3 separate regions of the Homo sapiens genome follow, and all the other regions are linked to region 2. The links come from fine-mapping of genetic effects on gene expression. A gene starts in region 2. Each other region holds a variant in brackets. All regions are shown on one strand. Distances are between the middles of the regions.

Region 1 (2,759 bases), 110 kb before region 2:
CTGATTTCCAACCTTCCACCCTCCACCAGCAGTGCTCAACATGGAGTGACTAGAGATTAGGAACATCCAGAATAGAAATGAAAAAGGACAAGGGGAACAGGATTTTGAGAGTACTAGTGAGAGGGCTGTAGGGATCTGATCAGAAGTTCAAGTTGAGTGGACAAAGGTAAAGAAAGGTAGTATACAGAGATGGAGCGGTGATCAAAGGCAGGCTTCTCAACAGAACAGAATTGGGAAAATAGGGTAGAAAAAGTCTCTAAGCCAAAAACAGAAAAGGGTGAGAGAGGTGAAAGGAGTGCCAGAATTGTGCCAGCAAAGTGGAAGAGAATATAGGGGGTTCAAGAATTCAAGAGAAGTTCAGGGTTGGGTGGTGGCAAACTCCAAGGCCTGGCTCTGGCATGGACGATAAAGAAAAATGGAGGTGACAGATACTGGAAGCCAGGCTAGAGGGTACACTGTCCACATTGACAGGCAGTGTAATCACCTGGAAGACTGGAGGGCACTGATACAGACTGTGAATCAAGTGGCAAAGTCCTCACTGAAGATGATTGTTGGTAGGTGAGAGCTAAAGAATGGTGAAAAGCCTTGACAGAAAAAGGATTTTTTGCATAAGGATGGTACCAATTTGCTGTTGTAAAATTTGTCCCAAGAGAGATAATCTAAGAAGACACAAACTCTGCTTTGGAAGATAATAATATATATATTTCTTTAAAATTGTGGTTTCAGCCAGGCACAATGGCTCACACCTGTAATCCCAGGACTTTGGGAGGCTGAGGCGGGTGGATCACCTGAGGTCAGGAGTTCAAGATCAGCCTGGCCAACGTGGCAAAACCCCATCTCTACTAAAAATACAAAAATTAGCTGGGTGTGGTGGTGCACACCTGTAATCCCAGCTACCCAGGAGGCTGAGGCAGGGGAATCACTTGAACCCAGGAGGCAGAGGTTGCACTGAGCCGAGATCGAGCCACTGCACCACAGCCTGGGCCACAGAGCAAGACTCTGCCT[CAAAAAAAAAAAA/C]AAAAAAAAAAAAAAAAAAAATGTGGTTTCTAGGAACCTTAAAACAAACTAGGAGTAATTAGAAACAGAATTAACTGTTTTTTTATTGTTATTTTAAGTAGAAGTAAAAATGCCCAACTAAGAATAAAAGTTACTTAGCTGCAAACAGATACCTGAGCCCAGAAAACAGGTTACACAACACCATGAACACACTATTAAGACATGTGAAGAGCAAAGGTCAAGAACAAGGAAACATACACACGTCAGCAGATTTATTTATTGCACCAATACCAAACAGGAAAAGTCTCTCTGCAGATTAGAAAAGTGATCTACTCAAGTAACATGAAAACCAGTGCAAAGGATGTAATGGAACAGAATCTCAGATTACAAGTAACTTCTTAAAGCCTTGTTCCATTAAACTACATGGATGGCTCATTTAAATGAAATATCCTGGATAGATAAATCCATAGAGTAAGTATATTAGTGGTTGTCAGACTGAAGGAAGGAAAAATGGGGAATGATTGCTAATGGGTACTGGGTTTCTTCTTGGGATGATCACATGTTCTGGAATTAGATAGTGGTGATGTTTACACAACAATGTGACTATACTAAAAACACTTAATGTACAATTTTAAAAGGTCGATTTTATGGTATATCAACTATATCTCAAAAAAGCTATTATAGAAAAATTTTAAAAGCAAATTTTAAAAAGCTTATATGGCATTTAATATTTAAAACTGATTTACATGAGTAATTACACAAAACCATTTACTTTTTTTTTTGAGACAGAGTCTCGCCTGTCGCCCAGGATGGAGTGCACTGGCGCGATCTCCTCTCACTGTAAGCTCCACCTCCCAGGTTCACGCCATTCTCCTGCCTCAGCCTCCCGAGTAGCTGGGACTACAGGAGCCTGCCACCACGCCTGGCTAATTTTTTATATTTTTAGTAGCGACGGGGTTTCACCATGTTAGCCAGGATGGTCTCGATCTCCTGACCTCGTAATCCGCCCTCCTTGGCCTCCCAAAGTGTTGGGATTACAGGCGTGAGCCACCGCGCCCCGCCACTTTTTATTTTTTTGACAGAGTCTCCCTCTCACCCAGGGAGCGCCGTCTCTGCTCACTGCAACCTCAATCTCGGGGACTCAAGCAATCCTCCCACCTCAACCTCCTGAGTACCTGGGGGCTACAGGCATAGGCCACTATGCCTGGCTCATTTACTTTTTAAAACCGGCCGGGCGTGGTGGCTCACGCCTGTAATCCCAGCACTTTGGGAGGCCGAGGCGGGCGGATCACGAGGTCAGGAGATCGAGACCATCCTGACTAACACGGTGAAACCCCGTCTCTACCAAAAATACAGAAAAATTAGCCGGGCGTGGTAGTGGACGCCTGTAGTCCCAGCTGCTCGGGAGGCTGAGGCAGGAGAATGGCGTGAAACCAGGAGGCAGAGCTTGCAGTGAGCCGAGATTGCGCCACTGCACTCCAGCCTGGGCGACAGAGCGAGACTCCATCCCAAAAAATAAATAAATAAATAAATAAATAAATAAATAAATAAATAAAACCACACATTAAGGGCCGGGAGCAGTGGCTCACGCCTGTAATCCCAGCACTTTGGGAGGCCGAGGCGGGCAGATCACCTGAGTTCGGGAGTTCGAGACCAGCCTGACCAACATGGAGAAACCCCATCTCTACTAAAAATACAAAATTAGCCGGGCATGGTGGTGCATGCCTATAATCCCAGCTACTCAGGAGGCTGAGGCAGGAGAA
Region 2 (2,759 bases):
CACTGCAATTTCTGCCTCCCAGGTTCAAGCGATTCTCCTGCCTCAGCCTCCCAAGTAGCTGGGATTACAGGTGCATGCCACCAGGTCAGGCTAATTTTTGTATTTTTAGTAGAGACGGGGTTTTGCCATATTGGCCAGGCTGGTCTCGAACTCCTGACCTCAGGTGATCCGCCTGCCTCGGCCTCCCAAAGTTAGGATTACAGACGTGAGCCACCGCTCCCGGCCTTTTTGTTTTTTTCTTTTCTTTTCCTTTTTTTTTTTTGAGACGGAGTCTCGTTCTGTCGCCCAGGCTGGAGCATCTTTAGCATGCGAGGTGGTCATGAACGACAAGGAGAAAAAACAAGGTGAAGGGGAATGGGGAGTGTTGGCAATTTAGATAGAATGTGCACGAAAGGTTTCAATGGGAAATTCTAATTTGAATAAAAACGCACAAAACGCGAGGAAAGCCTAGGAACACATCAGCCGTATACTTTGCCGTAGAGAAGTTAAGGATGAGGAACAGGCACCAAGAACAAATCCCAGCGTAAGGCTCCCTTTAAGTGCGGCTCCCAGGGTTACGTATTCCCATTGCCTACAGGCGAGGCCGCGGGTCTGTAAACAAGCGACTGCCGCTGCAACCTCCATTTTGCTTCCTGGCACCAAATCTAGGCTGACCTACTTACTGCCATCCCTTTCCCACTCCCGGTTTTCTTTTCTTTCTTTTTTTTTTTCTCGAGACAGAGTCTCGCTCTGTAGCCCAGGCTGGAGAACAGTGGCGCGATCTCGGCTCACTGCAACCTCCGCCTCCTGGGTCCAAGAGATTCTCCTGCCTCAGCCTCCCGAGTAGCTGGGATTACAGGCGCGCGCCACCCCGCCCGGCTAAGTTTTTGTATTTTTAGTAGAGACGGGTGGGGGGAGGGGGGAGGGGGTCACCATGTTGGCCAGGCTACTCTCGAAATCGTGACCTCGTGATCCGCCCGCCTCGGCCTTCCAAAGTGCTAGGATTACAGGCGTGAGCCACCACTCCCGGCCCTGGGTGCTGGTTTTCTTCACCTCCGAGTGAACAGCAGAGGGGGCTGTTGGGTGAGGGCCAGAAGAGTTGGGGAGGCACGAGGGCGTCCAGCGCTGCCCTCACTCAAGATGGCGGCCAGAGCCTCGCGCTTGGTCGCGTGGGGCGGTGCGTGAGTGCTTAGCTCACAGGCTCCGGGACCGCGCTCGGGGGCGGGTCTATAGTGGGAAGGGGACGCGCGCCCTGCGGCCCGGCCTCTAGTCATCGCCCTCGCAGCGGCGGCCAACATCACCGCCACTGCCACCCCTCCCAGACTGTGGACGGGAGGATGGAGTCGATGGCCGTCGCTACCGACGGCGGGGAGAGGCCGGGGGTCCCAGCGGGCTCAGGTCTGTCGGCTTCCCAGCGTCGGGCGGAGCTGCGTCGGAGAAAGCTGCTCATGAACTCGGAACAGCGCATCAACCGGATCATGGGCTTTCACAGGCCCGGGAGCGGCGCGGGTAAGAGCCTCGATTTCCCCTCAGTCTCCCGCCCATCACCTTGAATCTTCAGGGTCATTCTTCCCTCTCCCACCTCCACTCCTCTGACCTTTTTGACCAAGCCTTGCTCTTTGATTTCCTCTCTGTCCCGCCCCTTCGGTGATATCCCAAGTTCTCATCCCTGAACCCCAGGATGTTCCTAGTCGCTCCCCTCAATTTTCCCGGGGCCTCGCCGTGAGATTTTCCCCACCCTGCCTGCAGAGCTCTCACTCCCTCTTCCCAGTTACGTTGAACAGCCCCTTTTTTCCTTAGCCACTCCTCGCCTTTCTTGAAGGGCGCACGTTGTATCCCCAGACTGTCATGTCTACTGCTCCCCTTAGGAAGATGGCTTTCCTTCTTAAGGTTCCAAGTGCTTTTCCTTACAGTGCCTTCTCTAGCGTCTACCTTCTTTTGCCTTTTGCTGTGTAACTCCTGTCCGCCCACATCAGCCTGTCTTTACTGAACTGCCCGCTAGTTCATCCTACGTGTATCAGGGACTCTTGTGCTCATATCCTAGTGTTTGTGTTCAGTGCCGTCAACACTGTCACCTACGGGCCGGCTAGAAAAGGTGGGAAAAGTGAGAGTGAGCATTCTTCAGAGACCCAGCAAGTGCGAAGTGCACACCTGAGAGTTTCCTCTCCTCATGAGGGGATATTGTTGTGATTGATGTCTGGAGCTGCATTTCTAAGGAGAGCGCCTCCTTCCTCCCCCAAACACATGTCCAATGATTTTCTTTAAAAAAAATTTATTTCACGTGAGTATAATTGAGCAATTAGCGCGCCCTAGTGTTATCTAAGTTTCCAGTGTTTCCTTTAGTAATTGGCCTTTAGTCACTGGTCGCAAGCTCCTTATATCTTTGTGACTTTTGTTCTGTAAGGCTTTAGGTGTATAGCTCTGAACTTTTAGGCAGTTCAAATGAGAGGTAAGAAAACCATTTCAAATTCTTCTAGAACAATAGAAGAAACATTTTTCTATCGGGCTATTTATTCTTAAAGCATTATTTATGATCTTACCTGAGGTACTTTCTATATTTTGTTCTTTTGCTTTGAAAATTTTATGTCTTTAAAGGTTGTTTTATTTTTTGAGACAGGGTCTCCCTCTGTAGGCCAGGCTGGAGTGCAGTGGCATGATCATAGCTTACTGCAGCCTCAAACTCCTGGGCTTAAGCAATCCTGCTACCTCAGCCTCCGGAGTAGCTAGGACCACAGGTGTACACCACCATGCCTGGCTAATTTAAAAAAAAATTGTGTGTG
Region 3 (2,759 bases), 150 kb before region 2:
TTTGGCTTATGTTGCAATATTTATTTTCTTGTATTAGAAAAGATTCCTTTGTAGAGAAAAAATGTATTTTTCATTAACGCAAAGACCTATTTCTCCTTTTTGTACATTGTCCATGTGCGCAACCCTTAACGAGCAATAGAATGTATGGTCACCTGGGTGTGGCCAGTGCCCGCTGTGCCCTGCATGATTCTGTGTTGCCGCTGCTGCATAGTTCCCAGCCCCATCCTGTCCTGCTCACTCATGGGGGCTTCCAGACCCCGGCCCCACCAGGGCTTGTGTCATAGGGAGCCCTTTGCACTCCTCGTGTGTTGGCAAACGCAGTTAATAAAGCAGTGTTTTCTGTGCTGGCTGGTGTGAGGCTCCATTGCATTGGATGGGGTAGGGAACCCTGGGAGTCCCACACACACACCCGACAATGGGCTCAGCAAAACCACGGGGTCCCTGAGTTTTCCAAGGGATCAGCTGCCACCTCCTAAGGAATCATAATAAAGATGTTCAGTGCACACCAAGGGCTATAATTTCAGAGCAGTATTTATATTTTTCATTATTATTATTATTATTATTATTTGAGACAGGATTTCACTCTGTCACCCAGGCTGCAATCTTGATTCACTGCAGCCTTGACATCCCGCGCTCAAGCTGTCTTCCCACCTCAGCCTTCCGTGTAGCTGTGACTACAGGTGCATGCCACCATGCCTGGCTGATTTTGGTAATTTTTGTAGAGACAGGGTTTTCCCATGTTGCCCAGGCTGGTCTCAAACTCCTGGGCCCAAGTGATCCGTCTTCCTCGGCCTCCTGAAGTCCTGGGACTACAGGCGTAAGCCGCCCCTAGCCTCAGGGCAGTATTTCATTTGATCTTCAATATGTTCCCCTGGAATTGAGAGGATGAGGGATGCACCTAAAGTCGAAGATGTGCTAAGAGGTAAAGCTCTGCATCCAAGGCAGGACTGCTGCACTCCCCACCTGCTACAACCACCTGTCTGGGACCGTAGGAAAGTTTGGGAGGAGCCTCCAGGGAGTGTCCCTAGGTCAGTGAAGATTTTTGCTTGAGTTTGTTTTTCATTCATGATTTTCTGAGCACCTACCCTGAGCCAGGCTCTGAAAAGAGTGTGGGGAATATAGCTGCTGTCCTTGCTTGGGGTGGCTCACACAGGCAGTGAGGGAACTGGGAGTTTTCATGGAGGCCTGGGCTGGTCTAGGGGTGAAGGGGTTCAGGAAGGGTTTCTCTGAGGAAGTGACACCATTAATTCATTGATTCATTGATTCATTCAACAAGTAGTCTTGACCGGACACCTCACTGCCAGTGTGCTGGGTTGTATACTGTGCATGTCACCAGGCCCCTGTCCCCCTAGAACCTCCAGACATTGGAGACCTAATGAAAAATAGTTGCTAGCCCAAGGGAAGCTGCATCGGAGAAAGGGATGACGGGCATTCCTCATAGAGGGTTTGGCCTATGCAAAGATGGATCAAGCTATATCGGGAGGGTCTTGAACCTCCTCTGAGGGCTCAGAACAAGGCTGTGAGGGACAGAGGTTACATTAAGACTCAAAGCATCTTAGCTTCTGGGGCCACTGACTTAGTTGTTTGCCACAGAGAATTGACCCATTTCCTCTCCAGAGCAGTAGACGGTAG[G/T]TTCCCAAGGGTGCCTCCAGATCCAATGTTCTGAGTCCACAATGCACAAGGTATTGGAAGTAAATTTGGGGTGGAGTGTGTGTGTGCCCAAAATGCCCGTGGAGGGAGGTCTCCCTGTTAGGGCACCTGGGAACCTGGAAAAACAGGCTGTGGATGTTCTCTCAGCCCCAGCTCCAGCAGCTCAGCTGTGAATGGGAAGAGCTCAGCGTCCTCAACTGTGGAATCAGCATGGGATGCTGGCAGGAAATCAGCCCTGGGGCTGAGGGGGTATCTGGGTGGCCAGCCCACCTGGCCATGGTAAGAAACTGTCAGCCCCATGGCCCAGCTGCCGTGGACTTGGCACCACAGCTTCTCCCTCCTCCTGCAGCCAGCCCAAAGCAGGACCACAGTGATCCAGAAGAATGACTCAGGCTTGCCCCTCACTCTAAAACCACACCTGTGTCGGCTGGGCCAGGTGGCTTATACCTGTAATGCCAGCACTTTGGGAGGCCAAGACAGGTGGATCATTTGAGGTCAGGAGTTTGAGACCATCCTGGCCAACCTGGTGAAACCTCATCTCTACTAAAAACACAAAAAATTAGCCAGGTGTGGGGATGCACACCTGTAATCCCAGCTACAGGGACTAAAGGGAGGTTGAGGCAGGAGAATTGCTTGAACCCGGGAGGCAGAGGTTGCAGTGAGCCAAGATCATGCCACTGCACTCCAGCCTGGGAGACAGCGCAAGAGTCTGTCTTTAAAAAAAACAAAAATAAAAACAAACAAAATAAATAAATAAAACCTCACCTGTGAACCTAACCCAGCTGATAAATGTAGGGCAGGGGGATTCAGGGTACATGTTGGTCTGTTCTTTAGAAATATAGTGCAAGTCACATTTGAAATTCTAGTAGCCCCATTTTTAAAAAGTGAAAAACAGGGCCAGGTATGGTGGCTAATGCCTGTAATCCCAGCACTTTGGAAGGCCGAGGCAGGAGGATTGCTTGAACCCAGGAGTTCGAGACCAGCCTAGACAACATGGCAAGACCCCATCTCTACAAAAAAAAAAATTTTAATTGGCTGGGCATGGTGGCGCACACTTTTAGTCCTAGGTACTCGGGTGGCTGAGGTGGGAGGATTGCTTGAGCTTGGGA

Alleles and levels. Alleles are on the strand shown, and positions count from the first base shown. SD is a standard deviation of normalised expression in the study named. Not every link is listed here.
With allele G in place of T in region 3, the expression in prostate of the gene that starts at base 1,244 in region 2 is lower (moderate effect, 0.68 SD a copy in GTEx).

The links. PIP is the estimated chance that this variant, and not a neighbour inherited with it, causes the effect.
Region 1: its variant is the best candidate, but not a certain one, in a credible set for the expression of CAMLG in whole blood (INTERVAL, PIP 0.63).
Region 3: its variant is the best candidate, but not a certain one, in a credible set for the expression of CAMLG in prostate (GTEx, PIP 0.53).

The regions. Positions count from the first base shown.
Region 1 is chr5:134,625,293-134,628,051 of GRCh38, forward strand. The region is part of intron 1 of SAR1B (secretion associated Ras related GTPase 1B); the gene reads right to left. Among named protein-coding and RNA genes, the nearest start is that of SAR1B, 6.2 kb to the right of the region's middle. RefSeq lists an enhancer at 1,158-1,302 and a cis regulatory region at 1,224-1,237. The variant CAAAAAAAAAAAA/C (reference allele first, on the strand shown) is at 1,006.
Region 2 is chr5:134,737,305-134,740,063 of GRCh38, forward strand. It overlaps CAMLG (calcium modulating ligand), which reads left to right and starts at 1,244. Exons shown (of 4, transcript NM_001745.4): 1 at 1,244-1,488. The coding sequence starts at 1,317. RefSeq lists an enhancer at 832-881.
Region 3 is chr5:134,582,884-134,585,642 of GRCh38, forward strand. JADE2 (jade family PHD finger 2) reads left to right here. Exons shown (of 12, transcript NM_001388185.1): 12 at 1-344. Among named protein-coding and RNA genes, the nearest start is that of SAR1B, 49 kb to the right of the region's middle. The variant G/T (reference allele first, on the strand shown) is at 1,633.